Linked DNA regions of Homo sapiens: regions 2, 3 and 4 are each linked to region 1. The links come from fine-mapping of genetic effects on plasma protein levels. A gene starts in region 1. Each other region holds a variant in brackets. All regions are shown on one strand. Distances are from middle to middle. Region 1 holds the start of IGDCC4 (immunoglobulin superfamily DCC subclass member 4). Region 2 overlaps DENND4A (DENN domain containing 4A). Region 3 overlaps IGDCC4 (immunoglobulin superfamily DCC subclass member 4). Region 4 overlaps IGDCC4 (immunoglobulin superfamily DCC subclass member 4).

Region 1 (8,210 bases):
GAGCTCAGGAGTTTGGGACCAGCCTGGACAATCTGACGAAACCCCACCTCTACAAAAAAATATCAAAATTAGCCAGGTGTGGTAGCACCTACCACTGCTTGGGGGCTGCTGAGGTGGGAGGATTGCTGGAGCCCAGGAGGTTGAGGCTGCGGTGAGCTGTGATCATGCCACTACACTTCAGTCTGGGAAACAGAGCAAGACCCTGTCTCAAACAAACTAACGAAAAATAAATTTGGTTTTTGACCTGTCAGTGACTGAGTTTTGTTTTATTTGTTTGTTTATTTTTTCTGAGACAGGGTCTCATTCTGTTACCCAGGCTGGAGTGCAGTAGTGAAATCTTGACTCATTGCAACCTCTGCCTCCCAGGCTCAAGCAATCCTCCCACCTCAGCCTCCCAAGTAGCTGGGACTACAGGCACACACCACCACACCCAGCTAATTTTTTTGTATTTTTGTAGAGACGGGGTTTCACCATTTTGCCCAAGCTGGTCTTGAACTCCTGATTTCAAGAGATCTGCCTGCCTTGGCCTCCCAAAGGGCTGGGATTACAGGCGTGAGCCACCATACCCGGCCTGTCATATATTTTTTATGGTCCCACATGGCTATAAATTAAACAGTGTATAAATGACCAAGTATGAAAATAAGTTAAAGCTGTTTAATGATAAAAACCATGACAGTGAACCATGTTTATCTGAGCATGTTCCTCGACCCTCCACTAACCACCACCCTGGAACACCCCATACACCCTTGGAAGCTTTCCATGTTACCAGCTGAAAGAGGAAAATAATAGAATATTTTATTATTGATTTTTTTTTTTTGAGACAGAGTTTAGCTCTTGTTACCCAGGCTGGAGTGCAATAGTGCCATCTTGGCTCACTGCAACCTCTGCCTCCCGGGTTCAAGCGATTCTCCTGTCTCAGCCTCCCGAGTAGCTGGGATTACAGGCATGTGCCACCACGCCTGGCTAATTTTTGTATTTTTAGTAGAGACGGGGTTTCATCATATTGGTCAGGCTGGTGTCGAACTCCTGACCTCAGGTGATCCGCTCGCCTCAGCCTTCCAAAGTGCTGGGATTACAGGCATGTGCCAGCCACCATGCCCAGCCTGATTGATTTTTAAAAACACATTAAAACAGGTGCTATATCCACTTTTAATGTTGTGAACTCTTTGGAACTGGTTAGAAATGTGCATCATACCCCAACCCTTTTGTCTCAGTGATGAAACTGAGGCCCAGAGAGAGGATGGAAGTTGCCCAAGGTCATGCAGCAAGTCTGTAACCAAGGCAGGACAAGAACTATGGTTCTTACTCCTGCTGGGCTTGGCTGGCCTGAACCTGTAACTCTATCCCTCCTCCTCTCACATTTACTCCCTACCCAGAGCCCATGTAGTGAGATATGAATATAGATAAATTAATTAGATTTTTGTATGTGGCTGGTAGAATTAGTCTCTCTATATGGCAACACCTTGTTCATTCATTCAATTGACAAATCAATTGCTTTCTAGATAACATATGAGGCCAGTCCATCTGGCCCTGGCCTCCCTGTTTGGCTTCATGTCCTGCCCCTGCTCCCCTGCCCAGTCCACACCTCCTGCACTCTGCTTACATTGTCTTTCCTGTAAGACTTCTCTGCTTCCCCCAGGTCTGGCCCGAGTGCCCCTCTTCCCTGTACCCCATCACAGACTGTATCACACTTGTCCATCTCCCTCAGTAGCCTAAGCACCATTCAGGCAAGATTCCTCTTGTTCGCCAGTCTGCTCCCAGTGCCCAGAGCAGGGCCTGACCCATAACAGGTACCCCTTGAATCAATGATTGGATATGCCATTTCCAGGCAGGAAGAGCACACTTCCCTGTGCTCTCACAGCCCAGGGCCTCTGCAGAGGGAGTTTCTTGACCACCCTGTCAGTTCTAGCCTTTTAAATTGTCCAGACCCATGTCAAACATCCACAGGTCTGGCCCGAGTGCTCCTCCTCCCTGTACCCCATCACAGACCGTATCACACTTGTCCAATCAATAGTTCTGTGAAGCCTTCCTTCTCAACCTCCATGTCCCCCCACCCCACACACGGTAAATCCCTCCTCCTTTTGTTCCATCCTCCCTGCCACCCCATGCCACTTAGGACACTACTATCCTTGTGGGCAGGGACTTGTATTTTTTATCCAGGTCCCCTGGCACCTACACAGTGTGAGATACTGATTTAGGTGCTTAGCATTCAGCAGTGAACCTAGCAAACAAAAATCCCTGTCCTCATGAAGCACACATTGTGATTGTGAGGGGTGGGGGAACAGATCGAAAATAAGTAAAATGTAGAGCATATTAGTAAGTTACAAGTGTTGGCCGGGCGCAGTGGCTCATGCCTGTAATCCCAGCACTTTGGAAGGCCGAGGCAGGTGGATCACCTGAGGTCAGGAGTTCAAGACTAGCTTGGCCAACATGGTGAAACCCCGTCTCTACTAAAAATACAAAAAATTAGTCGGGCATGGTGGCAGGCACCTGTAGTCACAGCTACTCGGGAGGCTGAGGCAGGAGAATCTCTTGAAACCAGGAGGCGGAGGTTGCACTGCGCTGAGATCGTGTCACTGCACTCCAGCCTGGGCGACAGAGCAAGACTCTATCTCAAAAAAAAAAAGAAAGAAAAAAAGAAAGTGACAAGTGTTGGCCAGGCGTGCTGGCTCACGCCTGTAATCCCAACACTTTGGGATCCAAGGCAGGTGGATCACTTGAGGTCAGGAGTTCGAGACCAGCCTGACCAAATGATGAAACCCCGTCTCTATTAAAAGTACAAAAAGTTAGCTGGGCATGTAGTCCTAGCTACTTGAGAGGCTGAGACCCAAGAATCACTTGAACCCAGGAGGCGGAGGTTGCAGTGAGCCACTGCCCTCCAGCCTGGGGGACAGAGTAAGACTCTGTCTCAAAAAAAAAAAAAAAAGAAGAGAAAAAGAAAGAAAATAAAATAAAAAAGAAAGTGACAGTTAAAGACAAGAATAGACAGCAGGGAAGGAGGATAGGAAGAGTAGGGGGTGAGGCTGTGAGAAAGCCTTTATGGTATCCAGTATGAGGGAACAGATCTCTAGACTTGCACTGGCCGGACAAAGGTCTTGAGGCTGGAGGGGAGGAGGCTGCCCGCGATCAAGTTACAGCAAGGAGGATGGTGTGGCTGGAGAGGTGGTGAGCACAGGGGGTGGTGTCGAAGGGGAGGTCAGAGAGGTAGAGCAAGCCTACAGATCAGATAGGCCTTGTGGGTCACAATAAGGACTTTGGCTTTTGCTCTGACATAGGAGCCGCTGGTGGGTTTCTAGCAGAGAAGTGGCATGATCTCATTTTAACAGGAGCACTCTGGCTGCTGTATTGAGAAAACACTCAAGGAGGACAAGGACAGAAAAAGATCAGTGAGGAGTTTGCTGTGACAATCCAGGTGAGAGGCGACGGGTCTTGGACCAAGGCCACAGTGAGAAAGTGGAGGGTGAAGCATCTGAACATGAAGAGTAGGAGATGACTCTACATTTTTTTTTAATAGAAATGGGGGTCTCGCTATGCTGGCCAGGTTGGTCTTGAACTCCTGGCCTCAAGCGATCCTCCCACCTCGGCCTCCCAAAGTGCTGGGATTACAGGCGTAAGCCACCAAGCCTGGCCTCTACATTTTTGACCTGGGCAACAGGAAAGGAACTGAGATGAGGAAGACTGTGGGAGGAGAAAGATTGATAGAAAAGATCAGGATGAGTTTGTCTACTAGACAGCTAAAGGAACTGGGGCCTGGATGGCTGGATACAGAAGTCCAGGGTTCAGGAAAGATGGTCTAGGCTGAAAGTATACATTTGGGCATCATTAGCATAAAGATGCTCTTTAAAGCCTTGAGGACCAGATGAGATCACTAAGGGAAGCAAGTGTTTCAAGGAAGAGGGAGTGATTCACTAAGTCAAATGCTGCTGATAGGGCAAGTGAAGATGGGGCGTGGCAATGAATGAATAAACGCCAGGCCTGTTAGATATGCAAAGCGCCAGTGATTATTGAGGGTTAACTGACAACAGACAGGTGTAGAGACAAGATGGCTCTAAGTCACAGGAACACTTAGAGACACAGGGAAGGGAAGAACTATGGCATCTTGGAGTTGGAAAGGACCTTAACTAGGTCATTGAATCTGTACTCTTTTCCCCACCCTAGCCTGACAATTGAACCCTTGGCTGTAGAACAAGAAATATTTGCGGGATACTGAGGCAAACAGTCTGGCTAGGTAGGTTAGAGAAAGTACCGTTGAAGAATGAGAAAAAGGGTACTTCAGTAAATGCTGGACAGCAGAGGCAGGGTGAGGGAGTGGAGATGACCTTCCGAAGTCAGAAAACCAAGGTTCAGGTCCTGTATCTGCTGCTCCCTAGCCTCCTGTCCTTGGGCAAGTCACTTCACCTTCTCCAGCCTCAGTTTCCCCATGCGGCGACATCTGAATATGGTAGTGCTTGAAGGTAGTGTAAAAGTGTCCTGCCTGTGTTAGTTACTGCCAGAGCAAGGGAAGGAGGCCAAGAGAAGCCCTTGGTTTGGGATGGCAGATAGGACTATCAAGATCTCCGCAGGTGGGCTGGCGCAACGTGTGGAGAAGCGAACCAGCATTCAGGCCAGGACCTGGGCTGGAATGGACTGGGCTCGGGTGGCAAGGGGGCCATCTGGACAAAGACCGTGGCCCTGAATCTGCCTCCCCTGAGCCTGGAACGGAGGTGGAGACCCCGAGGCAGCAACAGGGAGAAGAAATAGAGACGCTGAGGCAGAGAGACCAGAAGACTCAGAGACGGGGAGACTAAGAGACAGACCCAGCAACAGGCGGCCTCACGGGGGCCCGCGGCGACCCGGAGAGGGCGAGGCACCGGGACACAGACCCGGGCCGAGAGGAGCCCCCGCGAGGCGCAGGGCCGTGGCGCGCGGGCGCAGGGTCCCCGGCGGGGCCAGGGTGGCCACACTCGCCGGGCGCCCCCTCCCGGGCCGCTCGCCCAAGATGGCGATGGAGGGGCGGGTGAGGCGGCAGCGGCCCTGGCCCCCGCGCCGGCCCCAGCTCGGGCCCGGGCCCCCGAGGCCGCGCCCCCGCCCGCGGCGCCGCGCCTCCCCGGGCCACTGACGCCCGGCGCGCTCTCCCCCCGCGGCGGCGGCCGAAGCACGGGGAGGCGGCGGCGGCGGCGGCGGCCCGAGCCCAGCCCCATGGCGCGGGGGGACGCCGGCCGCGGCCGCGGGCTCCTCGCGTTGACCTTCTGCCTGTTGGCCGCGCGCGGTAAGGGCGGGCGCCCGGAGAGGCAGGAGCGACTGCGGAGTGCTGGTGCGCCCGCGCCCTGGTCTGCATCGGGCTGCGGGGCTGGCTCAAGCCGGAGTCCCGAGCAAGTGCGGGGGCTGCGCGTCCAGGTGCCCGCGATGCCTGCGCGGGGGTCTGCGAGCTGCGGCCGGGGGGCGTTTGTGGGGCGTGCTTGTCCGCAGTGGGTGTGTGCCTTTGGTTCGCAGAGTCTGGAGTCGTGTGTGTGTGTGTGTGTGTGTGTGTGTGTGTGTGTGTTGGGAGTGCTCCTGTCGTGTCCGCAGTGCGTGCCATGGTCGCGGCGTGGCATCGGCGGGGCGGGTAGCTGCGGTGTCGGTGGCTTTCGCGGGGCGGGCTCTGCCTTGCCTGCGCGTGTCTTGGGTTGAGAGTGTGTGTAAAAGAGGAGGGAACTGGGGTTGTGTCTGCACCTCCATTTGGGTCGGGTGCGTGTGCAATTGTGTTTATGGGGCTGAGCTAATATTTGGCCTTGGCATTTGGGAAGTGTCCTTGCCCATAGTGGGGGACAGAGCGATGGATCCCGTTTGACTGGGGGTGGTGGTGATAAAACAACACTCAACTTTGCCCAGTGGGTGTGGTCCCTGGGGCCGGTTAGAGAGGGGTAGAGGGAGGTGTTGCTCCCCAAAACCTGTGGCCAGCAGTGGACTGGGGGAGGGGGCAGGAAACCATTTGCTTTCGTGGACATGTCCAGCGCTTGTTCTCACGATGGGACGCGTGTCACCCCGGCCCCACCCCCCAGGGACCGACCAGGGAAGCGTGGACGAGGTCAGCAGGGCCTCATCCAGTCCGCAGCCCAGTGCGGAGTGGGTACGGGGTAAGTCAGAGTTGTCCAAGCTGGAGAAAGGGCTGGGGAGGGGATAGCGAAGTCCCCAAGGGTGTGTGTCTAGGGCTGCGGCTTCCACCCACAGCTCTGTCGCTTCCTGTCCGGTGTGCGTTTGGGGGCGGCTCATGGGGAGTGTAGGTGGCAGGGCTGGGAGGGGGATGGGCTGGCCGCTTTGTTCGCCTAGTTCTTGCCTTCCCCGCGGAGGGGGGAGCTGAGGATGTGTCCGGGGAGAGTCGGGGAGGGACTTGGAGGTGGGGGTGGGGAGGGGGATTTCTCTCCAGCTGCTGCGGCTTTCCAGAGAGACTCAGCCAGGCCACGTGGGAGGGAGGCGGGGGGAAGGAGCCTCCGCCTGGCCAGCCCCAGGCCCATCTCCAGGAAAACCAAACAGCGGGTGGGAAAGTGCCGGGAACTCCTCGGACCCCTTCTGTCCCTACAAAGACACGCCCCTTTCCAGCCCCAACAGCGGATTAAGCTGGAGGCCGCCGCGAGGCTGGGTCTCGGCTGCTGGGCCAGAGGAGCTGGAGGCCCTGGCTTGTCAGGTGAAAGGGGCGGGGAAGTGTCAGAGAGAGGTCTGTCTTCCCAGAGCTCAGGGGATTAAGGAATAGTTCCCCTGCCCCACCTTCCGCTATTCCTAGGGCTCCTGGAACGAGCTCAGGGTCACCCAGCTAAACGGCATCAGGGCTGGGAACCGCACCGGCGCATTATTCAATACCTTTAGGACCTGCCGCGAGGGACCCAGCTTCCCTGGCCTCTCCCTGCTCCCGAACGCACAAAGCAGGCGAGGGACCGAGTTGCGGCGTCTCTTGGTTGCAGTGTGAGTGGCTACAACAGCTTGCCCTGGTCCTCCAAATCTCAGCAGGCCGGGGGACACTCCAGTCGAGTCATGACTAGCCACCCTGATCTGTACTGAGGTCATTCATTCGTTCAACAAATATTTATGGAGCACCTTTTATAGGCTAGCTTGTGCCTAGTGCCTAGAATATAGTAAATAAGGAGGCAGACCTGATCCCTGGTGCAAAGCTTTCAGTCTGGTGGAGGGGGAAACTGACAAGTCCCCTGAAGTGCTGGGGAAGACGCAGGAAGGAGGGGCTCCTACACCGATCTGGGAAGGTCAGCAAAAGCTTCCTGAAGAAAGTGATGAGTAGTAGAGCTCGACATGGAGTTAGCCCTGTAGAAGGAGAATGATGATGGGGACAGTTTTCCAGAGAACAGCATGTGCAAAGTTCAGAGGTGATTTAGTTGAGATCATTGGATTAAACTAAATCTAGCTGGAGTTTAGGGACAAGGGGTGGATGGGGGGCAGGTGAGGGAAGCATGGAAAGGGGTCAGGGAGTATCAAGACAGGAGGCTGAAGAGGGGAGCTAGATCCAGCTCACAAAGGGCTTTACAGGGCCCACCAAGGTTTCTGGCCTGAGAGTCCCCATGAGCCCTTGACAGGATTTAAAATCAGCTTTGCATCATCTCATTCCAGCCAGTGTGGAGGATGGATTGGGTGGGGCTGGAGGCAGGAAGCTCCAGCTCCTTCGAGGCTGTTGTAGCAATCCAGAAGAGAGGATGGTGGCAGCTAGCATAGTGGCAGTTGGGGTTGGGCTGGAGTGGCTGCATTCCAGAGATTTTCAGGAAATAGAATCAGTAGAACTTGAGGATAGATTGAATTTGTAGGGGGCGAGAGAGAGGAAAGTAAGAAATAGGCCGGGTGCGGTGGCTCACGCCTGTAATCCCAGCACTTTGGGAGGCCAAGGCGGGCGGATCACGTGAAGTCAGGAGTTCAACACCAGCCTGGCCAACATGGTGAAACCCCATCTCTACTAAAAATACAAAAGTTGGCCAGGTGTGGTGGTGCATGCCTGTAATCCCAGCTACTCGGGAGTCTGAGACTCGAGAATCGTTTGAACCTGGGAGGTGAAGGTTGCAGTGAGCTGAGATCACGCCACTGCACTCCAGCCTGGGCGACAAAGTGAGACTCTGTCTCAAAAAAACAAACACAACAACAACAAAAAAACATGAGGCAGAATGAAGGGCTGGTATTGGGGTTAGGATAATGCCTGTGCCTGCCCATCTCCTCCCAACACTGTTCTTGAGTCAGGGACTGGGACCCCTTTGTGA
Region 2 (8,000 bases), 320 kb before region 1:
GCCCGGCCATTTTTTGTATTTTTTTTTTTTTTTAGTAGAGACAGGGTTTTACCATTTTTTTAGTAGAGAACAGGGTTTTACCATATTGGCCAGGCTGGTCTTCTGATCTCAAGTGATCCGCCTGCCTCGGCCTCCCAAAGTGCTGGGATTACAGATGTGAGCCACTGCACCTGGCTGAGTCTCCTTAAGGGTATTTTTTAAATACTCTTTCCACATGGCTCTTGTTTTACAACTGTCCAAGAATGTCAGCATTTGATTTAGCGAGTTTACTTAGAAAAGTAGAATTGAGCCGGGTGCTGTGACCTGTAATCCCAACACTTTGGGAGGCTGAGGCAGTTGGATCACTTGAGGTCAGGAGTTCGTGACCAGCCTGGCCAACATGCTGAAACCCTGTCTCTACTAAAATACAAAAATTAGCCAGGCCTGGTAGTGCACACCTGTAATCCCAGCTACTCGGGAGGCTGAGGCAGGAGAATTGCTTTAACCTGGGAGGCAGAGGTTGCAGTGAGCCGAGATCATGCCACTGCACTACAGTCTGCGTGACAGAACGAGACTCCGTCTCAAAAAAAAAAAAAAAAAAAAAAAAAAAAAAAAAAAGAGAAAAAAGTAGAATTGTTAACAAGGGAAGTAATTAAATCATGTACCTAATTCTGGGGGAAAGAGGAAGAATTTGAAAGTACGTTTTTGCTGTGGCAAACCACAATGTGGATACTTATTGGTAGAGAGTTTAAAGTAGTTTTAGAACAATGCCTCCTTCTTTTTTCACCTTGAACCTTGTGTGTAAAAAAATTTGGAAAATGCTTTTAATTCCTTTTTTTTTTTTTTGAGACGGAGTTTCACTCTTGTCGCCCAGGCTGGAGTGCGATGGTATGATCTCTGCACACCGCAACCTCCGCCTCCTGGGTTCAAGGGATTCTCCTGCCTCAGCCTCCTGCGTAGCTGGGATTAAGGGTGCCCGCCACCACATCCTGCTAATTTTTGTATTTTTTTTTTTTGGTAGAGACGGGGTTTCACCATGTTGGCCAGGCCGGTCTCAAACTCCTGGCCTCAGGTGATCCGCCCACCTCGGCCTTCCAAAGTGCTGGGATTACAGGCATGAGCCACCATGCCTGGCCCCGCTCTTAATTTTAATATCCATGGTTCTCTTTCCTACAGAGCCCCGTAACTTATACTGCATTTCTAACTCCTTGTTTTTCATTATAGAATATTCCTTTTGGTTTCTACTATATCCAAATGGTCATATAGTTCTTTTTTTATTGTCACCAAAGTTATTATTGAAGTTTTCTTGCTATCTTTACAAATTGGATTTATTGGGAAGTAGAGTTGGGACTTTCCAATAGAGAGCCCATTTTTATAAAATTTTTTTTATCCATTTGATAAACCAAAATTTGTTTGCCTATATTCATAATATCTGCTTGACTTTTACATATTCATGTGACTTAAAAAATATTTTTCCAGTAGATTAGTGTGTTAAATGTTGCTTATGTTCATTGCTGTGTTGGGATTTTATTTTTATAAATGCTTTAATATTTTTCCATCAAGAGAAAATTTCCCAAGGCTACAATCTCAACATAATTCATTAAACTATATTAAAATAAAAGGTTAAGGGTTTTTATTTTTTAGTAAGATATTTGCAGATAGCCAGACATATTATTTTATGTGTATTGTGTGTTTTAAATAAGAGAGATATTTGAATATTATTCTCTTTCACTTTAGTTTGACCACATTATGCTGTTAGCTATTCAGTATTTGGAAGGCTGACAGATACTTAAAGTTGAAAAGCAAAGATTTATGTTTTTGAATACTCAGGAGATTGTCATTTCTTGATAAAATATTATTAAATGATCATATAGTGCTATTTATGATATCTTCTCATTGTTATTCATCAGATTTTTAAGTACATCTAAATGAGAACTTGATTAAGTGAGTGTGAACTAAATATCAGAGAAACCAAAGTTGGAAAATAATTTATATTCAGACACTTGGCTTCTTACATGAAAATACTTATGTAACTTGTCTGTATTTTCTGTAATACTGATATTTTTCCAAAGTTTTAGTCGTTACCTTTAAGTAACTACTTGTCACCTCTTGTCACCTGGCTTTTGACAGGTATATAATGCATTTTTTATTCAGAAATGACTCAAGTACAATTCTTATTTAATTCTTGAAAGGATTACATGAGAAACAAGCCAACAAAAAGGCTTCTGTACATTCAAAATAGATACAAAGTTCAGACACTAAAAGCTTATACTTTATGAGTCTCTCAGAGCTACCCACTAATGTTTACTTAGTCTTATGTAAGTAAACTTTTTTGTATTCAGATAATAGTTAAGAAAATATATAATACACCAAATGGTGATACATGCTAAGGAGGAAAAAAAATGCAAGAGAGGGGTGATGGGGAGGACTGGGCAGGGTGGAGGGAGCCTTGTTATTATATGTAAAATGGTGAAAGGAAGACTCTCTGATAAGATGATGTTTGAGTTGATACCCCATGGAGGTGAGGAAGTGTGCCATGTAAATTTCTCTCATCACCTATACATCAAATGGTGACCTCTCTCAAGTTTGTGTGTCCATTTCAGACCGCTTACCTTAGCTCTATTTAGTTCTTCACTTGGATGTCTAATAGATGTTTCAAACTTAACATGTCTAAAACTGAACCCCTTATCTTCACCCCAAACCTGCTTTATCCACAGTCTTCTCCATCTCAATTGAGTTTCTTCCTTCCTGTTACTCAGGCATTGGCATCATCTTTGACTCTTATACTGTACTTCATATAATCAGATAGGATTTTTTTTTGTCTGTATTTTCAGAATATACCCAGAATCTGACCTCTTTTCATCATTCCCACTGTTGCTACCCTTATTCAAACTCTCATAATTTTTGCCTGGATTACTGATACAAAATAATTATGAGTACTTGCTTTCTTCCTTGTCTCCCACCCCCACTTCTCAACATAGTACTCAGAGTGACCTTTTAACTGTATGTCAGATAATGCCTCTCTTCTGCTCAAAACCCTCCAGTGGCTTTCACTATCTCCAAGAGTAATAGAAGCCAAAATCCTTAAAACAGCCTAAAAGGACCCACATGATCTGGCTTCCTTATCTCCCATCAGTATTTCATTTACTCTTCTCTGCTGTCATTGCCTCTTTAGCTCTTAGGTCATGACGGGCATACTTTTGTATCAGGGCCTTTCCTCTTGACATTCCTTCTACCTAGAAACCTCTGCTCCAAGATTAATTCATTCAGCAAATACTTTATGGAGTACCTGTAATGCACCAGGCACTGTTTTAGGTATTAATGATAACAGAATGTAGAACTTATCAGAGTGGAGGAAAATAGATGATAATAAATTTTAAACAAATAACTTTTAAAGTATAGTATGTTAGAAAGTGTTAAGTGCTGTAGTAAAAAAGAAAACCTAAAAGTATCATAAAAGGGGATTGGGAGTAGAGGGGAATGGGTTGCAATTTTAAATTGAGTGGTCAGGGAAGCCCTTATTTGAAAGTAATATTTGAAGGCAGTAAGGAAGTTAATCATTCAGATATCACAGGCAAAGAATGTTTGAAATATAGGGAACAGTCTGTGCAAAAGGCCTCAAGGAGGGACCATTCCTGGCATGTTTTAGGAACAATAAGGAAAATGGTGTGTCTTAAAGCAGAATAAATTATGGGGAGAATAAAGAGATTGGAATTGGGGGTAGATGATTAGGGCCTTTAGGTGATTGTAAGGACTTTAGCTTTTATTCTGAGAGAGACTGAGATTTTGAACAGAATAGTGACATGCTCTGACATTTGATTTAAAAGGATCACTCGTTTATGTAGTGATAGACTGTGGCGGGAAGCAAAGGTGGAAGGAGGAAGACCGTTTGGGAGATTATTGCAATCCAGGGTACTAGGGGTGGAGTTGTACAAATCACGTTAAATTGTAATAATAAAAACTTATTATATACTCCTTTTAATTATCAATGACATTACACTTCTTCATGTGCATGGATTGTGTAAGGAATGTGTTTCATAAAACTATTTTACCCTTATTTCAAAACTTTTAAATAAATTATGTATATATTTATTTAGTAAAACTTATTTAACTACTATGTGTGAGCCTCTGGGAGTACAGTGGTGAAGAAAACAAAATCCCTACCCTCATTGAGCATATATTCAAGTCAGAAAGACAATAAACAAACAAATATAGCATGTAATGATAAATAATCTTAAGAATAAAAAGAGGCTGGGCACAGTGGCTCACGCCTGTAATCCCAACACTTTGGGAGGCCGAGGCGGACAGATCACCTGAGGTCAGGAGTTCGAGACCAGCCTGGCCAACACCATGGCCAACATGGTGAAACCCCATCTCTACTAAAAATACAAAAATTGGCCGGGCATGGTGGCATGTTCCTGTAATCCCAGCTACTCCAGGAGGCTGAGGCAGGAGAATCACTTGAACCTGGGAGGCGGAGGTTGCAGTGAGCTGAGATTGCACCATTGCGACTCTATCTCAAAAAAAAAAAAAAAAATCAGCCAGTCATGGTGGCACGTGCCTGTAATCCCAGCTACTTGGGAGACTGAGGCATGAGAATCACTTGAACCCAGGAGGCAGAGATTGCAGTGAGCCAAGATCGCACCACTGCACTCCAGCCTGGGTGACAGAGCGAGACTCCATTTAAAAAAAAAAGATTTGAAAGTTAAGTTATTCTTTTAAGGAGTGGTAATTAAAGCCTGATTGGAAATGAATTTGGGAGAAAGTAGGAAATAAGGAAGTGGACTTAACAAATTACAACTCTTGAGGCATAAAGGATTGCAGAAAAACCTGGCAATATCTGAAACAGATTGTGGAGTCAAAGGTATGCACTTGAGTAGATACTTTATAGTTTATCATTTATACCCACAGTTTGGACTCAGAATAAAATCTAAATGGTTGTGACTTAGCTTTGTTTAAAAGAGTCAAGTTTTCCTCATGTTATTGCTGTTGCAAGGGGAAAAAAGTAGTAATTTACTTCTGAAAGAAAAGTGGACAGTGATTCCAATAAAATATTGACAAAACAGCCAACTGAAAATAGCTAGCAGAGGGAAATTTGTTACTACATATTAGATAATACATACTAGAGAGCTCAAAGAGATTCCATTTTATCAAGTTCCTACCTTTTAAAAATTAAATGATATTTCTATTTTTTTAAATCCAGTGGGGATCAGCAGTATACTTGTGTTATAAAAAATCGGTGGCAAAGACGAACACTGTATCTTACAAAGCTGGTAAGTGTAATTTTTCATGCAATACTTCATATATAAATGTATTATAGGGCCCGGAAAGGTTAAAGTAAAGAAACCTGCCTAGTCTGTGTTAGTATCAGGACTGGGACTACAATCCGTATCTTCTGATTCTCATTTTTGTCTTCACTTATATGTTTATTGGATGCTTGATGGAAGATTAATTTTAAAATAAGGTGAGTTTTTATTTTAAGCCTTGGGTTTAAATAAATAATAAGATCTCAATTATCTTTAAGTTTTTAAATCAGCAGAAATATGGTAAAATGTATTTTCATTTTAAATTAATATTTCTTTAATACTTAAATTTAGTAAGAGCTGTAGTTCACATGAAATCATGTTTCATAATAATGGAAAATATTATAAACCAATTTGGAGTTTTATAATCCATAGTCAAAATGTCCAATTTTCAGAGACCTCAAAATACCAAACATAGTGACCTTATTTACAAGAGAACAGATTCAGCCTTTTAAAAATTGCTTTTATGCAGGGCATGGTGGCATGTGCCTGTGGTTCCAGTTTTTTCGGAGGCTGAGGCAGGAGGATTGCTTGAGCCCAGGAGTTCAAGACCAGCCTGGGCAACATAGACCCCATCTTTAAAAATATATACATATATACCAGCCTGGGCAACATAGACCCCATCTTTAAAAATATATACATATATACATATACATTTATATACGTGTGTGTTTAGAGTTCTAGACTCAAGTTTCTCTTTTACATTTGATTTTTTTTGGGGGGGGTACGGGGTCTCATTCGGTTGCTCAGGCTGGAGTACAGTGGTATGATTGTAGCTCACTGCAACCTCAGACTCTTGTGCTCAAGGTATCCTCTTGCCTCAGTCTCCCTAGTACCTTGGACTATAGGAGTGTCCCAGCATGCCTGGCTAATTTTTTAAATTTTTGTAGAGACAG[G/T]GTCTTTCTTAGGTTGCCCAGGTTGGTCTTAAACTCTTGGGCTCAAGCGCTCCTCTTGCCTCAGCCTCCTAAAGTGATGGGATTACAGGTGAGGGCCACCATACCCGGCCTTTGATATTTTTAGATCTACAATTTATCACCTTTTTTTTTTTTTCTTTTAAAGACAAGGTTTTGCTCTGTTGCCTAGTCTAGAGTGCAGTCGTGGGATCATAGTTCACTGCAACCTTGAACTCCTGGGCTCAAGCAGTCCTCCCACATCAGCCTCCCAAGTAGCTGAGACTACCGAGAGTACATGGTGGCATGTGCCACCGTGCCTGGCTAATTTTTTTTTTTTTTTTTTTAGTAGAGATGGAGTCTTGCTGTATTGCCCAGGTTGCTCTTGAACTCCTTCGCTCAAGTGATCCTTCCACTTCAGCCTCCCAAAGTGCTGAGATTACAGGCGTGAGCTGCTGTGCTGGCTACTGGCTCTCATCAATATTTCTTTTTTTTTCTTTCTTTTTTTTTTTTTGGGAGATGGAATCTCACTGTGTTGCCCTAGGCCTAATTTGTGGATATCCTCAAGAAGATTATGAGTCATTCTCACTACCAGAATCCGTTCCTCTATTTTGTTTACCAATGGGTGCAACCATTGAAAGGCTGGAGTGCAGTGGCACGATCTTGGCTCACTGCAACCTCCGCCTCCCGAGTTCAAGCAATTCTCCTGCCTCAGCCTCCCGAGTAGCTGGGACTACAGGCACACACAGCCACACCTGGCTAATTTCTTGTATTTTAGTAGAGATGGGGTTTCACCGTGTTGTCCAGGCTGGTCTTGAACTCCTGAGTTCAGGCAATCTGTCCGCCTCGGCCTCCCAAAGTGCTAGGATTACAGGCATGAGCCACCACGCCCAGCCGGCCTTCATCACTATTTCTATACTTACTTTATGACTTTATTAATTACCTCATGACCTGAGAGAGTAGTACAGAGTTAACTATAGATCCTCATGGGACCTACTTGCTGGCTAGCATGTAATTAAATAATTTTAGAACTGCCTTGGACCTTAGTTTATCTACTTCATCTGATTTTATAGATGAGAAAACCATACTCCTGTAGTATGTCATTTGTCCAAAGCCACAGATATATTAGTGGCAGAACCAACAACCACTTATATTCCCCCAGTTTATCTTTTTGTCTTTGTGGCTGTCTAGTGATAGTTTCTACTTGACTTTAAGGGCTTTATGGCCAGGGAACCTATTTTCTGTTTCTAGTTCCACAAAATGAGGTACAAGGTTCTTCCTGGAGTGTATTCAGTGGAAGATGCCTGGACCGTTTTCCTAATGTAAACATTAGTTTACCTAATGTGAAATCATAGGCAACTTAAAACTCTATCTTCATATAACCTGGTGTTATTTAGAAGCTGAGCTTGAGTTGATACTATTCCTAAGACATTGTAAATATGTGACTCTTCTATTTTTATGAAAAATTTTCCTGTATTTGTGCTAGAAATTAACATATACTCCTATGGGATATGAATTTTAATGTGTAAAAGTTATTGAGAGCTGATGAAGTAGATAGATGAAAATAAACCATATTGAAAATTTCAAAAACTTAGTATTCTTTCTAAGGTAGTGTGACCACAAGCTGAATTTTTAGGAGTATGTTTGTGCATTTCTATAGGATATCTTTTTCTTGTTAGCTTTAACATAGCCTTTATAGATGAAGCTTGATAAATATTAAGCAGTTAGTTAATAGTTGTAATGTTCAAGGATTAAAATCTCTATGAATCCTACCAAAGTATTCAGTGTTATTTGATGAACATATATATAATGCTTTGGCATTCCAAAT
Region 3 (8,187 bases), 26 kb after region 1:
GCCCACCTCACAGTTGCCTGCTCCCCTCTTCCCAAGGCTCATCGTGCTTCCCAACGGCGTCCTTCAGATCCTGGATGTTCAGGAGAGTGATGCAGGCCCCTACCGCTGCGTGGCCACCAACTCAGCTCGCCAGCACTTCAGCCAGGAGGCCCTACTCAGTGTGGCCCACAGAGGTAAGGGGGCTGGCTGGGTGGGGAAACCTGGGGGTTTCTGGAACCAGCCACCTCAGAGCTGGGAGGGACCTCAAGGGGTCCAGGCCTTGCCTTCAAGTAGGTGATAAATGTTAGTCCCATTGACTGGTGAGGCGATGAAGCCCAGAGAGGGTACTGCCACCCAGCAAACCAGAGAAGAAAGAACTGGGCTGGAACACAAGACCCCAGACTCCAAGGGCAGGGCTCCTCTCTTCATGCAGAGCCTGTGTGCCCTCTGGTTGGATGCAGTGTCGAAGGCTGGGGACAGAGGTGGGGATGCGAGGCATCTGAGGCGGTGTCAGTGCCCGGAAGCCCTGCTCCCTGCCCCTTTCTCTCCTGCCCTTCTATAGTCACTGAGGGGTCCAGGCACTGGGGGTTCGTCCCTCTCTGCTTTCTGTGCCTTGCAAATCTGGCTACCTGTGGCCTAGTGCTCTTATCCTTTACTCGTTTCTTTGAAAAGCTCTTGCCCCAGTGTGATGGATTAGGAAGGGCACAGTCTTTGGGGTTGGAAAGACCTGGTTTGAATCCTGCCTTCTCTGCTCACCATCTGCATGACCCTGGGCTCCTTATCAAATGCCCAGCTCAGAGAGGCTCGAAGAGTCCTTGAGATAAGAATGGAAAGTGCCTGGCACCTGGCAGGTGCTCAACAGATCTCACTTCAAGCCTCCCCCAGGGGCACCTCCCTTGCTTCCCTTTGCCATGCATCCCTCCCACCTCCCACCCACTCTCTGCACTCCCACCCCGTCCCCATCCTGTTCCTTCTGGGCTTAGCTGGTAGGCTGCTCCCAGTCTGGTGTCGTCTTTCTTCTGTTCAAGGGGTATCTGCCTCCACCTGCTGGACAATCCAGATATTCACCACTCCACCCAGGGGGCCAGGGTCACACAAAGAACTTGGCAGGAAATCAGGGTTTAGGGAACTGCCGCACAGGCAGAAACTCAAGCCCACTGTCTGCCTTTTCCACTGGGAAATCCAAGGCCTTTTGGAGAAGGGATTTGCCAAAGGTCACCCAGTGCGTTAATGGCAGTGCTGGAACTAGAAACTATAACTGTTGACTCCAAGTCTGGTGCTTTGCCCATGACCCTGACAGTCCTCTGCCTAGATGGTGGGTTGCATTTGGGAGGGAAGAATGGAGGTAGGTGTGGGTCTGTCTAATCATTTCTCTGGTGCTGAGTTGAAGCCTAGGCAATTCTTCTGGCTCTAAAAGAAACAGCTCAGAGGTCCAGTCCCAGCCCTGCTGAATTTTATGGCTACGTCCCCCATCTGACAGATGGAATCATTGCTGCTGTCCCCGGTACCACCTCACCAGGTTACTGTGAGACTCAGGTGAGGTATCGCATGGCAAATGCCTAATGGTAAGGCTGCCTGCTGGTCTGTCTTCTCGCCAGGGTCCCTGGCGTCCACCAGGGGGCAG[G/A]ACGTGGTCATTGTGGCAGCCCCAGAGAACACCACAGTGGTGTCTGGCCAGAGTGTGGTGATGGAATGTGTGGCCTCAGCTGACCCCACCCCTTTTGTGTCCTGGGTCCGACAAGGTGAGTGGAGGGGGTGGGAGAAGGAGGGCATGGGAAGGGAGGGATGTGGCATCTCACATGCCCCTAAGTCAGGGGGATGTATGGGTGACGACCCAGTGGTCACGAACCTTCTGGTGTGGCACGAACTCCTTTCCCAGGGCTGGGTGTGGTGGTCAAGGTCGGAGCTGCGTGGGGAACTGGACAGACTTCCTTGTCACTCTGTGTAGCATGTGCTTTACAAAAGCACTTCCAAGCTGCCACTTACAGAACGGTTATTGCAGCCCTCCTGAGGCCAGGTGCTGAGCTAGGTTCTCCACCATAATTACATATTTCTGTTCCTCACAACGGTGTTACAAGTGAGTACTTGAGAGCTGGGAAGGTGCCACACAGCCAGTGAGTTAGGTGGAACCAGACCCCTCTGTTGGTCCGTGCAACTATAAGGCAAGCTCTGGGTCCACCCCAGCATACTGCTGTCTTTGTGTGACTGGTATCATACTGGGCACAGTGAACAAAACACAGAGAGGCAGGGACCCTGCCCTCTGAACTCATCGTCTAGTGAGGGAGAGAAAACACACATCTATGAAGAGAGGTCTGACAGTATCAGGCTACAAGTGAGAAGTGCCACTGAGTGACTGGAGATGCCATCAGGGTAACGCCAGTGCTGGGCCAAATTTCACTGTGCAGTCTCCTAAGCACTTTCACACCTGTTCTCCTGTCAGCCTCCAAGAGCCCTCTGGGGAGAGGAGGGGCCAGAACTATTATTCCCAGTGGGCAGATGAAGAAACTGAGGCTCAGAGAGGCAGTGGAAGAGCTGGGACCCAAGCTTTCAAGTCTGTTCTCTTTTTGGTATGCCAGTTCCTACAGTCCTGTAAAAAGAAAGCAAGGGTTATTTTTATTTCCATTTGTTGTTAAAAAGTGACTTGTCCCAAGTTGATGGCAGAAGTAAGTTTTAAATCCAGTTCTTTTTACCCCTTTCCCCAACTCATTCTATTACTCTATACATCTTTAAAAATATAAGTTTATATCTCATACTCAAAAGTGTATATCACGAATATATATAGTTTAAAGAAAATAAATTGAACAACTATTAATATGTACCCACCAATGAGCTGATAAAATAGAACAGTGCTGGCATTTTCGCACCTATCTGACCTGCACTGCCTCATTGGACCTGTGACACTTGCCTACTTAGGGGGCCAGCAGGACCCTTGTACTACTGGGATAAACTTGTGGTATCACCTAGAAGTTCTAATGTCAATATTTCTTAATTCCTGATTATGCATCAGGGTTACCCAGGGGACTTATTAAAACTGCAGACTCCTTTCTTCACCCCGGAGAGTCGTGTTCCAGGAATCTTTTTTTTTTTTTTTTTTTTTTTTGCCTGTCACCCAGGCTGGAGTGCAATGGTGTAATCACAGCTTACTGCAGCCTCCAACTTTTGCCGGCTCAGGTGATCTCCTACCTCAGCCTTCTGAGTAGCTGGGACTACAGGCATGTGCCGCTATGCCTGTATTTTTTTGTAGAGACAGGGTTTCTAGATGTTGCGCAGGCAGGTCTCAAACTCCTGGGCTTAAACAACCCACCCATTTTGGCCTCCCAAGGTGCTGGGATTACAGCCATGAGTCACTGCGCCCGGTGCTCCAACTGAAAGTGTGCTCTTCAGCTCTACTACCTATGACTAGTTAGAAATGCAGAATCTGGGGCCCTGCCTCAGTCCTCTACATCTTAACAAGGTCCCCTGCTAATCTGTGATTCGTGTGCACAGTACGGATTTGAGAATTGCTGTCCCGGAGGATCCTGACACCTAGGAAGAGAAGGGCTGGAAAGGAGCTTCATTCCTGACCCCAAGTACTGCTTTCTTTCCAGGAACTTACTCCACTAAGTCAGGGAAGGGGCATGGGTTGTTTGTTTTTGATTTTGTTTTGTTTTGTTTTTTTGAGACAGAGTCTCGCTCTGTCGCCCGGGCTGGAGTGCAGTGGCGCGATCTCTGCTCACTGCAACTTCCGCCTCCCGGTTCAAGCGATTCTCCTGCCTCAGCTTCCCAAGTAGCTGGGACTACAGGCACCCGCCACCACGCCTGGCTAATGGTTTGTATTTTTAGTAGAGACTGGGTTTCACCGTGTCAGCCAGGATGGTCTCCATCTCCTGACCTCGTGATCCAACCTCGTGATCCGCCCACCTTGGCCTCCCAAAGTGCTGGGATTACAGACAGGAGCCACCGCTCCCGGCCTGTTTTGTTTTCTTTCTCTCTCTCTCTTTTCTTTTCTTTCTTTTTTTTTTTTTTTTTTTTTTTGAGATGGAGTTTTGCTCTGTTTCCCAGGCTGGAGTGCAGTGGTGTGATCTTGGCTTACTGCAACCTTCGCCTCCTGGGTTCAAGTGATTCTCCTGTCTCAGCTTCCCGAGTAGCTGGGATTACAGGCATGCACCACCACACTCGGCTAATTTTTGTGTTTTTAGTAGAGATGGGGTTTTGCCATGTTAGCCAGTCTGGTTTCGAACTCCTGACCTCAAGTGATCCACCCGCCTTGGCCTCCCAAAGTGCTGGGATTACAGGTGTGAGCCACTGTGTCCGGCTGTTTTGTTTTCTGACTGCAAATGTTGTACATGTTCACCGTAGAAAACTAGGAAAAAAATAGATGCAGAAAACACTCAAACACTCCACTACTCAGAGATAAAAATTGTTTATGTACCAGTATATCTTCTTTCAGGTTTTTCTATGCCTATGTACAGTTTTCTCCCTGAAATTGAGAACATGTGCCGCATTTATAGTTCCAAGTCCTATTTTCATTCAACAGTATACCATAAGCATTTCTCTATCTTTAAAACTTTTTCAAAAAATTGTAATGACTAATATTCCATACTTTAAATATAGCTATAATGTAATTCACCAGTTCCTGCTGTTGGATTTTTAAGTCCTTTCCAGTTATCCGCTGTTACAGTTAACACTGCAGTGATCTGCTCTGTTCACAAATACTTGCCTGTACTTCTGATCATCTTCCTAGGACAGGTACACATAAATGGAATCCTTGGCTTCAAGGCCTAGGTGAAGCTCCTTTATGGCCCTTTCTCCAGCATTGCAATTTACTATTTTTAAAAATGTTCTCAAGTTGATGGGTGAAAATTAACATCTGTGTTTTAATATCTTTTTTTTTTTTTTTTTATAGAGACGGAGTCTCACTATGTTGCCCAGGCTGGTCTTGAACTCCTGGTCTCAAGTGATCCTTCCACCTCAGCCTCCCAAAGTGCCAAGAGCACAGGCATGAGCCACCGTGCCCAGCCTAACATCTGTTTTGAAGTGCCTTTCTTTGATGACATGAAGTTGAACATTTTTGTGTTTCTTGGCTATTTGCATTGCTTCTCTAGATTTTCTGTTCATGTCTACAAGGCAAGGGCTTTTTAAATGGTTTTCATTTCACATTGAGGTAAAACTTTGTGCGCATTCGAATCGTTGGCTTGGTCCGACCTTACCAGCCCTAGCTTCATCATAGTACTGGGCTGGGACCCCAGGGAAGGAGCATGTCCTTCTTGAGAGAAATGAATTCAGTAATGAAAACTGACGAGTGTGCTGAGCACCTATGATTAATATATGCCTGCACTGTGCCAGGGGTTCTGACATTCTTTCAATCCTCATGGAAACCCTGCCAGTTAAGGGCTAATTCCCCCTTACAGATGGAGACAGCCGGGCTCAGAGAGTCCCAGCAAGAGGAGGAAATGAGATTCGGACCAGGGACGGTTGTGTTTGCTTTATCCGGGTGCAGAGTGTTCCTGAGGTTCGGAGACTGAAGGGAAGGGCAGTCCCTAGCGTCCCCTCCAGCGCGTCTCCCTCTCCTTCCCCAGACGGGAAGCCCATCTCCACAGATGTCATCGTCCTGGGCCGCACCAACCTACTAATTGCCAACGCGCAGCCCTGGCACTCCGGCGTCTATGTCTGCCGCGCCAACAAGCCCCGCACGCGCGACTTCGCCACTGCAGCCGCTGAGCTCCGTGTGCTGGGTGAGGCGGGCCGAAGGGCGGAGGGAGCGGGTTAGCTGGGGCTGGGGTGAATAGAGCAGGGGGAGGTGGACGGGTGGGTGTGCTGGGGGCACTCAGGCGCTCTCCTGGAGGACGAACTCAGGGAGGAGTCCCTAGTAAGGCGGAGGTGGGACGAGGGATGGGGACTTGGTAACTGGAGGACGGAGTGCGGGGCGTTGAGTCTGGGATGGAGCGAGAGGGGTGATTAAGGCCTGGAGCGGGTGATTAGCGGGGAGTTGTGACTGGGGTTATTGTGGGGATAGTGGAGTGATCTGAGTGGTACTAAGAAAACTGGGGGGCAGGGTAGATCTGGTAGGTGTGGGACATATGGGAGGGCAGGGAGGAAGGAGATGGGTAAATTTAGGGGTGGGGTTAGATCCGGGAGGAGCAATATTTAGGGGAGGCTGAGGAGGCCTGGGGACAGTTTTGGGAGAGAAAGAGAATGGTCGTTGTGGGGCTGGGGTAAATGGGGAGAAGAAAGGGTAGGTCTGCGCTGAGCCGGAGTAGTTTGGAAAGGGTGAATCAGGGAGAGGTTAAAGTGATTGGAAGGGGAGCGAGGGAGGGCGGTGGGGGGCAGGCTTGGGGTACTGGGGGGGGGGCAGAGACCTTAGTTGCGGGATCCCGCGCTCAGCGTCGCCCCTCGCGCCCCTAGCGGCTCCCGCCATCACTCAGGCGCCCGAGGCGCTGTCGCGGACGCGGGCGAGCACAGCGCGCTTCGTGTGCCGCGCGTCGGGGGAGCCGCGGCCAGCGCTGCGCTGGCTGCACAACGGGGCGCCGCTGCGGCCCAACGGGCGCGTCAAGGTCCAGGGCGGCGGTGGCAGCCTGGTCATCACACAGATCGGCCTGCAGGACGCCGGCTACTACCAGTGCGTGGCTGAGAACAGCGCGGGAATGGCGTGCGCTGCCGCGTCGCTGGCCGTGGTGGTGCGCGAGGGGCTGCCCAGCGCCCCCACGCGGGTCACTGCTACGCCACTGAGCAGCTCCGCTGTGTTGGTGGCCTGGGAGCGGCCCGAGATGCACAGCGAGCAGATCATCGGCTTCTCTCTCCACTACCAGAAGGCACGGGGTACGTCGGCCTGGGGCGGGATGCACCAGCGCAGGCCCGGGCGGGGCGCAGCCAGAAGGGGTTCAGGTCGGATGACTGAAGGGTTGCCTGATGGGTACCTCTGCGGCAAGGATGGACTGGGGTAGGAGCCCATAGGAGAGACCCGCATAAGTATGGTAGGTATGGATTAGGCAACTGGCGCTGGAAGGGCCACTGCTTCCCTCAGTCATGTTTGTTGAGAGAGGAGGGAGAGGACGTTCCTGGAGCCACCTCCCATCCCAGTTAACTAACTGGAGAGGGGGGTCATTTCCAGAAAGCACTCCCTAACCAGTGGAGGAATTAATACACTGAGACAGGAAGCTGAGGGAGTTTATACACTCCAGCTCAGATTATCTGGGATGATTTAGCTATAAATAGACACCAGGACAATATGAAGGATTCCTATACAGACTCCAGCTAGCCAGCACGGGGGGGTGGCACTATGACAGTCCCCTTGTCCCCCGTGTCACCAGGCATGGACAATGTGGAATACCAGTTTGCAGTGAACAACGACACCACAGAACTACAGGTTCGGGACCTGGAACCCAACACAGATTATGAGTTCTACGTGGTGGCCTACTCCCAGCTGGGAGCCAGCCGCACCTCCACCCCAGCACTGGTGCACACACTGGATGATGGTAGGGCCTCTGAACTCGCAGTGGGCAGCTTGGGGTAAAGAGAATTCCCTGGGGAGGGGAGCTCACCCTCTCTTTACTAATGTAAAGGCATTTTTACCTGCTCATATCATCTTTTGTGCCCCGTAAGAGAGTGGGCGGGGTTCTTCTCCTCAGTTCACAGTTGGGGAAACTGAGGCCCAGAAAATGAGAATGATTTGCCCAGGTCAGTAGTTCAGCTGGGACTTAAGCCCAGGTCTGTGATGATTCCCTGTGTCATGCAGTTCTCCCTGACACCTATGTGCCATCCAGCTGGGGTAGGGGCCAGTGACATTAACCCATTAGACGTGGAAGATTGTGCTCCAAGACTTTTTCCAGCTTCAGGGTGGGAAAGATGTCCCCTCATCCTTCAGCTTGGGGCTCCCCTGAGAAGCTCCCTTTCCTCCCTCAGATCCTGGTCCTGGCCTACTTCTGACTTGCTGTGTGACCCAGGCAAGTCTCTGACCGCTCCCGAGCCTCACCTTCCACGTCGGTGGAGCAGAGCTCATGCTGATGTTCTTCTGTCTCAGTCCCCAGTGCAGCACCCCAGCTCTCCCTGTCCAGCCCCAACCCTTCGGACATCAGGGTGGCGTGGCTGCCCCTGCCCCCCAGCCTGAGCAATGGGCAGGTGGTGAAGTACAAGATAGAATACGGTTTGGGAAAGGAAGGTGAGTGGGGGTGGGTGGGCTGCAGGCATGTATGGGAATGATCAACGTGAAGAGCTGTCAGGGCTGCTGGAGAC
Region 4 (8,000 bases), 16 kb after region 1:
GTCCAAGGTCACAGTTAGTAAGGGGAGAGCCAGGATCCAGATGCAGGTGTTTCTCCTTGATTTGCCCCAGCCCCTGCATGGGTGACTCAGGAGCAGAGGCTGTGGGAGGTGGGGGGACATACACTGATGGCCCCGTGCTCCTCCTCTATGCAGGGGAGCTGCTGTTGCCCCAGGAGACGACTGTGGAGCTGAGCTGTGGAGTGGGGCCACTGCAAGTGATCCTGGGCCCAGAGCAGGCTGCAGTGCTAAACTGTAGCCTGGGGGCTGCTGCCGCTGGACCCCCCACCAGGGTGACCTGGAGCAAGGATGGGGACACCCTGCTGGAGCACGACCACTTACACCTGCTGCCCAATGGTTCCCTGTGGCTGTCCCAGCCACTAGCACCCAATGGCAGTGACGAGTCAGTCCCTGAGGCTGTGGGGGTCATTGAAGGCAACTATTCGTGCCTAGCCCACGGCCCCCTCGGAGTGCTGGCCAGCCAGACTGCTGTCGTCAAGCTTGCCAGTAAGTGCTTGCATCGGGCGGGGGTCTGAGGCTGAAACCCAGACTTGGGGTGTGCGAAGTGGGATCTGCAGTTAGTTACTTGCACAAATGCCTCTCTCTTGATCCCACTCCCCCTTTCCCTGCCTCCCATCCTGCTCAATAGGTCTCTTCCTGGTATTGTCTATCCTCATTCTTGGGTATTCCATAATCTTCCCGCTTCTTCTCCACTCCCCTGTTCCTTCTGCTTTTCTTTCCCTTTGAGTCCTAGAGTCTGGGCTTGTGCTGTCCTCCAGGGAGCCTGCCAGAGTGCCCCCTTTGTGTCAGAGGCACAAAGCTGCCTCCTAAGGGAGCTCCTGCCTGCACGGCAGGTGGAACATGTGGAGCCAAACCCCACGCTCCAGCCTTACCCCTTAGGGGGCTCTCAGGAGGCACAGATCACCATGAAGTAACTTTCAGGCCAGAAGAAGTGTGCATCTTACTGTATAGTTTGACCATCATGATGATGTTGGGCAGGGGGGCTTTGGAATTCATTCTGCTGGCAGTATCTGACCGCTAATCACCACTTCTTGTTGTGTCTCCCTCGGTCTGAATTGGCTCTGCTGTGTGTTTCTGTGACTGTGTGTTTCTGTGTCTCCATGCGGATGTGTTTCACTGTTTGTGCTTGCTGTGGCTTCTCTCTCCTATTCTTTTCCCGTCCCTGCCTGTGTCTCACTGTCCCCAGCACTCGCAGACTTCTCTCTGCACCCGGAGTCTCAGACGGTGGAGGAGAACGGGACAGCTCGCTTTGAGTGCCACATTGAAGGGCTGCCAGCTCCCATCATTACTTGGGAGAAGGACCAGGTGACATTGCCTGAGGAGCCTCGGTGAGTGCCCTGTAGGGGAGCGGGTCCTGGTAGGCAGGGCAGAGAGGGCTCTGGGGTGTGCTCAGAACTGAGATTCTTAGAGTCGAGGTAGCTGCATTTACCTAAGCTGACTTGAGTGTTAACCACCGCCTGACTCCTGGCTCATGTCTAGTCCCAAAGAGAAGTTGGACAAGAAGTTTTTGCTCCCTGGGAGGAAGCCACCCATTGAGCTGTGGAGCCTGGGTAGGTGTAGTAGTAGAGTCCTTCCCAGCACATCTAGTCCAACCACTTGCTTTATTGTGGAGACTGAAGGCCAGAGAGGAGCTGTGGCTTATCCCAAGCCGTACCATGAGCCATTGGCAGAATGTTGGTTGTCTGTTGAGGGCTCCCCGAGGCTGCTGGGAAGGTTTTCTCTTTTCAGGGTTCCTCCGGAGTTTCCACTCTAGATGCATAACTTCTCTTCCTCTCTCAATTCCATCCAGTGGGGCGTAGCCCTCTGAGAAGTGAATTGTAGAGGTCTTTCCTCTTTCACTCTCCTCTTTCCCTGTAAAGGCAATGGATGGGTAGAGCAATCCCAGGGAAGAGTTTCCAAGGCGGAAGGGAAGCAGAGGCTAGACCTTGGACTTGGTCCCTCTTGTGGCTTCCTGGGTAGGTCCAGATGTGTATGCAGCGTACCAGAAACCACAAGGCTCATTTGCATCTGTGGTCTCTGAGTTGGTCTCATGACTCAGTCATCACCCCCTGGATTCTTACGTATCTTTGGAAATGTGGCTCCAAGGCCTTTCCCAGCCACCCTGCAGTCCTCTCCCTATATCTCGGTAGCTGTAGTTACCAGCTAGATCCTTCTCCCGTCCTGGTGGAGGTGGGGCTCCTTGGGCTCTGAAACACTGCCCTTTCTCCCCTGGATCCAACCTTCTGTTGCCTGTGTTGCATTGTCCCAGCTCCTCTGACTTTTGCCCATGTGTAGGTAAGGATGGGGGTTGTAGGAGAAACTTCGGGGTAGAAAAGCCACAGGACAGTTGTGAGGGAGGAAGAGGGTGAGAGGTCCATACATAAGAGATCCTGGCTGGGTGTGGTGACTCATGCCTGTAATCCCAACCTTTTGGGAGGACGAAGCAGGAGGATCACTTGAGCCCAGGAGTTCAAGACCAGCCTATGCAAAATATCAAAACCCAGTTTCTATAAAACAATACAAAAATTAGCCCAGTGTGGCAGTGTGGTGCCTGTGGTCCCCGCTACTTGGAAGGCTGAGCGAGATCACTTGGAGGTTCAGGCTACAGTGAGCTGGAATAATGCCACTGCATTCCAGCCAGCCTGGGTGACACACCGAGACCCTGTCTCAAAAAAAAAAAAAAAAAAAGAGAGAGACATCCTGTTGACTTTGGTGATGGGTTAGCCCCACTGGTCCTCAGAGAGTCACTTCTCACCCAGTCTATTCTCCTTCCCACCTATAAAATGAAAGGGGGAAACAAATGAAAATTGATTTAGATTGTGGTTTCCCAAAGCGTGGCCTTTATAGAATGTTAGTCCCTTTAAATGCTTCTTGAATGAAGTATTCTATGATCAAATAAGAACAGGAAACTGCCTGTAAATCTCCCTCCTGGAGTTGGCAAGGCCCTGAGAAGTGCTGTATCGAGAATCCTGTTGACCTTGTTTAACGAAGCACTTCCTAGGCTCGTTTGCCCAGGAGCCCCTTAACATCCCATGAATGAGCATTCTAGAGGGTGAACCCTGGGAAATGCTGACCCAGCCTTTCTAACACTGACATTTGAAGTTCTGTGCCTTTCTAAATGTGGAGCCTGTCACCACTGTGTGATGATGGGTGCCTCCTGGGAGTTCCATGAACCCAGAACAGATGAGCTAGGCAGGAGAGAACCACGCGAGAGCCTACTCCTGATGCCCCCCAGAGAGGGTAGCAGAAGGCAGCAAAATCTCCCCATGTTGAAAGTCACAACATGAACCACTTAATGGGAGTGTACCTTGGGCCAGGCACGTGCTGAGCCTTTTACATGTTTTCTCACTTAACCCTTCCAATCATCCTTTAATGTAGGTATTTCTTATTTTCACATTTTCCTCTATTTACTTTTAATTGATATTCCAGCAGATGCATTTTTAAAATTCATATCAATATGGCTGGGCGCGGTGACTCACGCCTGTACTCCCAACACTTTGGGAGCCAAGGCGGGCGGATCGCTTGAGCTCAGGAGTTAGAGACCAACCTGGGCAATATGGTGAAATGTCATCTCTCAAAAAATACAAAACTTAGGCCGGGCGCGGTGGCTCACGCCTGTAATCCCAGCACTTTGGGAGGCTGAGGCGGGCGGATCACAAGGTCAGGAGTTCGAGACCAGCCTGACCAACATGGTGAAACCCTATCTCTACTAAAAAAAAAAAAAATACAAAAATTATCCAGGCGTGGTGACGCATGCCTGTAATCCCAGCTACTCAGGAGGCTGAGGCAGGAGAATCACTTGAACCCGGGAGGTGGAGCTTGCAGTGAGCCAAAATTGAGCCACTTCACCTGTCACCCAGGCTGGAATGAAAATACAAAACTTAGGCCAGGTGCAGTGGCTCACGCCTGTAATCCCAGCACTTTGGGGGGCTGAGGTAGGTGGATCATCTGAGGTCAGGAGTTCAAGACCAGCCTGGCCAACATGGTGAAACCCCGTCTGTACCAAAATTACAAAAATTAGCTGGACATGGTGGCAGGCGCCTATAAACCCAGCTACTCAGGAGGCTGAGGCAGGAGAATCGCTTGAACCCAGAAGGTAGAGGTTGCAGTAAGCCAAGATCACACCATTGCACTCCAGCCTGGGTGACAGAGGAAGACTCCGTCTCAGAATAATAATAATAATAATAAATTATATTGTACATACTAGGTTTTTTGTTGAATCATCTTTTTTTTTTTTCAAAAACAAAAATGGGATTATGTTGCAATTTTAATTTTTTTTTCACTTACCACTTGATAAACATCCTTCCAGGTCTGTACATATGGATATGGTAGGTATTTTTATCTGGATTGTTAAATGAGGGATTGGAGGATCAGAGGCAGAAATAACTTGCCCCAGGTCACACAGCTTAGTACTCAGAGTGTCAGACTCCAGCGACCTGCGTGGAGGATACACAGGCCTCTGGTAGGTGTCATTTGGTGGCTGGGTGCGGAACCTGTGAGGTCTGAAGAAGTTTGTATCACATTACAACTTTAATTTTTTAAAAAATTAATGGTGGATTTAGAAATCTGTAGTCCAACTGTGGCTGGGAGCAGAGAAGTTACTTCCCCAAAGCTTCTCAGCACACCAGTGGGTTTCAGACCTCCCCACCACCCCCAACGTCTAGCTCAGGCGTCATCCCGTGAAGCCACAAACCTAACCCAGGAGGCCAGAGCTGCCAGTTTTTGGACTCTGGGAGTGTTTGCCCCCAAGTCCTCTGAAAAGTGATCCTCATCTATAAATAAGCTAGGCTCGCATGTCCCGGCACATTGTGTGGGGGGAATAAAGAAATGTCTAAAACAGCAACTTGATTATGCCCAAGGTATGTATTTTTACACATGCCCAGATATAGTGCATGCACAAATATGCTATTCATAAACTCAGCCCAGTGGTTTGAAGGAGACCGTATGCCTTGGTGTAACGTGGCACATGTGCAGTTAATAAACACACTGCGTCAGGGTGTATGTGCTTCGTTTGGAACTGATGGTAAAGACTAGACCCCAAGGCAAATCCCCGGTACTCATACTATTTTCTAATAATAGGGGATAATCTAGGGGATAATTTTTCTTTCATGGGAACTAGTAATCAATGAGAGCAATGTTTCCCAAATCCCAGGTATTCAAAAACCACCTTCATAATTGTGACCATACTTATACCATTTACACAACCACTTCATAATTTTCTTTACATCAACTCGCTCTTTCGTAACTTGAACACATTTTAAAAGGGAACATTATCTCACTGCAATAAAATGGAAAACCAGCAACACTTGCCATAAATAGAAGATAGCCATAAAAATAAATAATGTAACTTCTAGGATAAAAAGCCATGTATCTGGATCCACTTGAAATCATTTTGTTATCGCCATTCACTCACATTTTAAGAAACATGGAACTAAGGGACTTAAATAACATGGGCTCCGGCCCTACCCTCTCCCAGTGGTTACCATTTCTGTCAATCTCATGTGACTTCCAGCCAGTATCCCCTTGCCCTGGGTGGATCTCAAGGGCTTAGGGTGGGGGCTCCTTGGCCCTTGGGAAATTCAGAGCAGCTGCGTCATTTCTTCTGTGTTCTTTAATCCTCGGGGCCCAAGTGGCCTTTTGTGGGTAGGAGCAGCAGACTCAGGTTTGAGGCTGGAAAAAGAATCATCCCTTCCTTTCGAGTTGAGATTGTTTTTCATTTTATAAGTAGCTTTTATTTTATTTGAAATTTGAATTTCTCTTAAAATGGTAGAGTATACCAACTTTACAGAAAGGGGAAAAAAGTCACCTACTGACTGAACACAGCTTTTACCAATTTGAGCGTCTCCTTGCAGTCTTTTGAAATACGTATATGGGTTACACCATTGTAAACATGTGTTCAGAGCTTGCAATTCATAAATATGTTTATGTCCGTTATCTAATGTGAGCTCAAAACACAATAAGAGGGTCAGGGTTGTGAAGAAGGCAGGACAGGAATTATTTAACCCATTTTTCAAATGAGAAAACTGTGGCCCAGATACAGAATGTCACTTGCTAAAATCACATACATTGAAACCAGTTCTCTCCAGCATGTCACAGTGCTTCTGTGTTAGAGCCCAAGTTACAAACCAAAGTGTACAAGGGCACAGATTATTAGCAATTTACATTTAAAAATTTTTATATTTCCTAACTGATACATATTAATTGCAAAAAAAAAAAACCCACTTAACAGGCACAATAAATAAGAATCCCCCGTAATCTCACTCCTACAGAAAACCCCCATAAACCACACGAGCTTTGCCACCTGTGGCTTTTTCTATGTATATCCTAATATAACTTTTCTCTATTTTCTAAAAGTAGAATTTCTTCATAAACACTGTTTTTTTACTCCCCCCCCCC[CA/A]CTAACTAATATATTTTGAACACTTTTCCAAGGACAGAGCTTCTAAAAACACATTTTAGCAAAGCAAAAGATTTTTTTGAGTCAGGGACTCACTCTGCCACCCAGGTTGGAGTGCGGTGGCACAATCACTGCTCACTGCAGCCTCTACCTCCCGGTCTCAAGCAATCTCCCCACTTCAGCCTCCTGAATAGCTGGAACTACAGATGTGCACCACCATGCCTTGGCTAATTTTTGTATTTTTTGTAGAGACTGGGTTTTGCCATGTTGCCCAGGCTGGTCTCCAACTCCTGGCCTCAAGCAATCCTCCTGCCTCTGCCTCCCAAAAAGCCCGGCCAGAAAAGATTTTAGATGAACCCTAAAAGTGGTTCCATCTTGCCTCTATTGGCTGCAGCAATAGCACCATATCTGGGGAAAGGAATTCATTCATTCATTAATTTGTTCATTCATTCATTCATTCACTCAATCACATCATTAAGGGAATGTTATTTTTTCAAAGGAGAGACTACCTCTTGAGTACTTGGAGCACAATATTCCCTGGAAAGACCTAGAAACACTGGGGTTAGGAAATGTAGGCAGTTCCCAGCAGCATAGTCAGCTCGCTAGTTCGAGGGAGGAAAAGAGGAGAAAGAAAGGTCTTGGAGGAAGAGCACGTTAGATGGATGGGGGTGGGGCCTGTTTTCTAGGTGGGTCCTACTTGTCCTTCCCCAATTCGTCCTTTCCTGTCAGTTCTTCTCTGGCAGCAGACTGGGTCCTGGCCCAGGATTTTGCTCCAGCCACACTTGTCTCCCTGTCCCTTTCTCTCGCTCTGCCCCAGCACTTATGTAGGCAGCTGTTGGAGCTGAGGGTGAGAGGCTGGGGGCAGAGGTGGGTTTGCCTGTGTGATGCAGGAAAGAGCAGGGCATATTTATGCTTTTTTTCTCTAAGTCCTTTAAGTCTTTGGGCCACAGCAGGTTTGTAGGGCCCCTGTTTAGAACATTCTTCCTCCCCAGCCTTTGAACTACTTCTCCTGTTCCATGTTTAGATTTTTTTAGACCCCACTTCCCCAGGAGCTAAGGGATCTCCACCAAGCGCACAACTGCCCCCTTCCCTCTCTGACCTTGGCCCAGCCTACATCCCAGAGGCCAGCACCATTTGCTCTGTTGAGAAACTAGGATTCTCAACCTGGAGCTGACCCTGTAGGGATCCCAGTTGGAGGATTCCGAGGGACCCATTCACCCCCTCCTTAGGTCGGAGCCCACTCTGGTCTCCACCACCCCAACCCCCATGGAGACCTCCCTATCCCAGATTACATCGTTTCTCAAGTAAGGTCTCTGGACCTTTCTATTTCTTTAGCCCAGAGGGCAGGGAACACCCTCATCCATCATGCCCCTTCTAAGTAACATACGTGTTGGCTGGGTCTGCTTGGAGACCACGTCCTCTCCAAGGGCATTCTCAGCCATCCAATGGCTGCCGAGACAGGCAGGTAGGACAAATATGACATTTGGCACCAGAAGACTTGGGTTCGAGTTTTCACTCTGCTCCACCTGTGAGATCCTGGGAAAATACCCTCCTATTTTTCACCAGTAAAATGGAGGTTGTGACCTCCTCTATGTCTTGGGCTTGTTTT

What was found. A credible set is the group of variants that fine-mapping cannot tell apart. PIP is the posterior inclusion probability: the model's chance that the variant is causal. Sun 2018 read protein levels with aptamers (SomaScan).
Region 2: its variant is the best candidate, but not a certain one, in a credible set for the plasma level of the IGDCC4 protein (Sun 2018, PIP 0.88).
Region 3: its variant is the best candidate, but not a certain one, in a credible set for the plasma level of the IGDCC4 protein (Sun 2018, PIP 0.73). The variant lies in the coding sequence of IGDCC4. If it changes the protein, the assay may bind it differently, which can mimic a change of level.
Region 4: its variant is the best candidate, but not a certain one, in a credible set for the plasma level of the IGDCC4 protein (Sun 2018, PIP 0.66).

What each region holds. Positions count from the first base shown.
Region 1 is chr15:65,419,831-65,428,040 of GRCh38, reverse strand. It overlaps IGDCC4 (immunoglobulin superfamily DCC subclass member 4), which reads left to right and starts at 5,094. Exons shown (of 20, transcript NM_020962.3): 1 at 5,094-5,248. The coding sequence starts at 5,179. RefSeq lists enhancers at 4,282-4,816, 5,792-6,061, 6,082-6,191.
Region 2 is chr15:65,738,967-65,746,966 of GRCh38, reverse strand. DENND4A (DENN domain containing 4A) reads left to right here. Exons shown (of 33, transcript NM_001320835.1): 5 at 5,183-5,252. Among named protein-coding and RNA genes, the nearest start is that of MIR4511, 24 kb to the right of the region's middle. The variant G/T (reference allele first, on the strand shown) is at 6,179.
Region 3 is chr15:65,394,337-65,402,523 of GRCh38, reverse strand. It overlaps IGDCC4 (immunoglobulin superfamily DCC subclass member 4), which reads left to right. Exons shown (of 20, transcript NM_020962.3): 4 at 37-173; 5 at 1,578-1,718; 6 at 5,535-5,690; 7 at 6,361-6,774; 8 at 7,266-7,430; 9 at 7,976-8,113. Among named protein-coding and RNA genes, the nearest start is that of IGDCC3, 20 kb to the right of the region's middle. The variant G/A (reference allele first, on the strand shown) is at 1,604.
Region 4 is chr15:65,403,524-65,411,523 of GRCh38, reverse strand. IGDCC4 (immunoglobulin superfamily DCC subclass member 4) reads left to right here. Exons shown (of 20, transcript NM_020962.3): 2 at 154-504; 3 at 1,205-1,346. Among named protein-coding and RNA genes, the nearest start is that of IGDCC4, 15 kb to the left of the region's middle. RefSeq lists an enhancer at 268-925. The variant CA/A (reference allele first, on the strand shown) is at 6,394.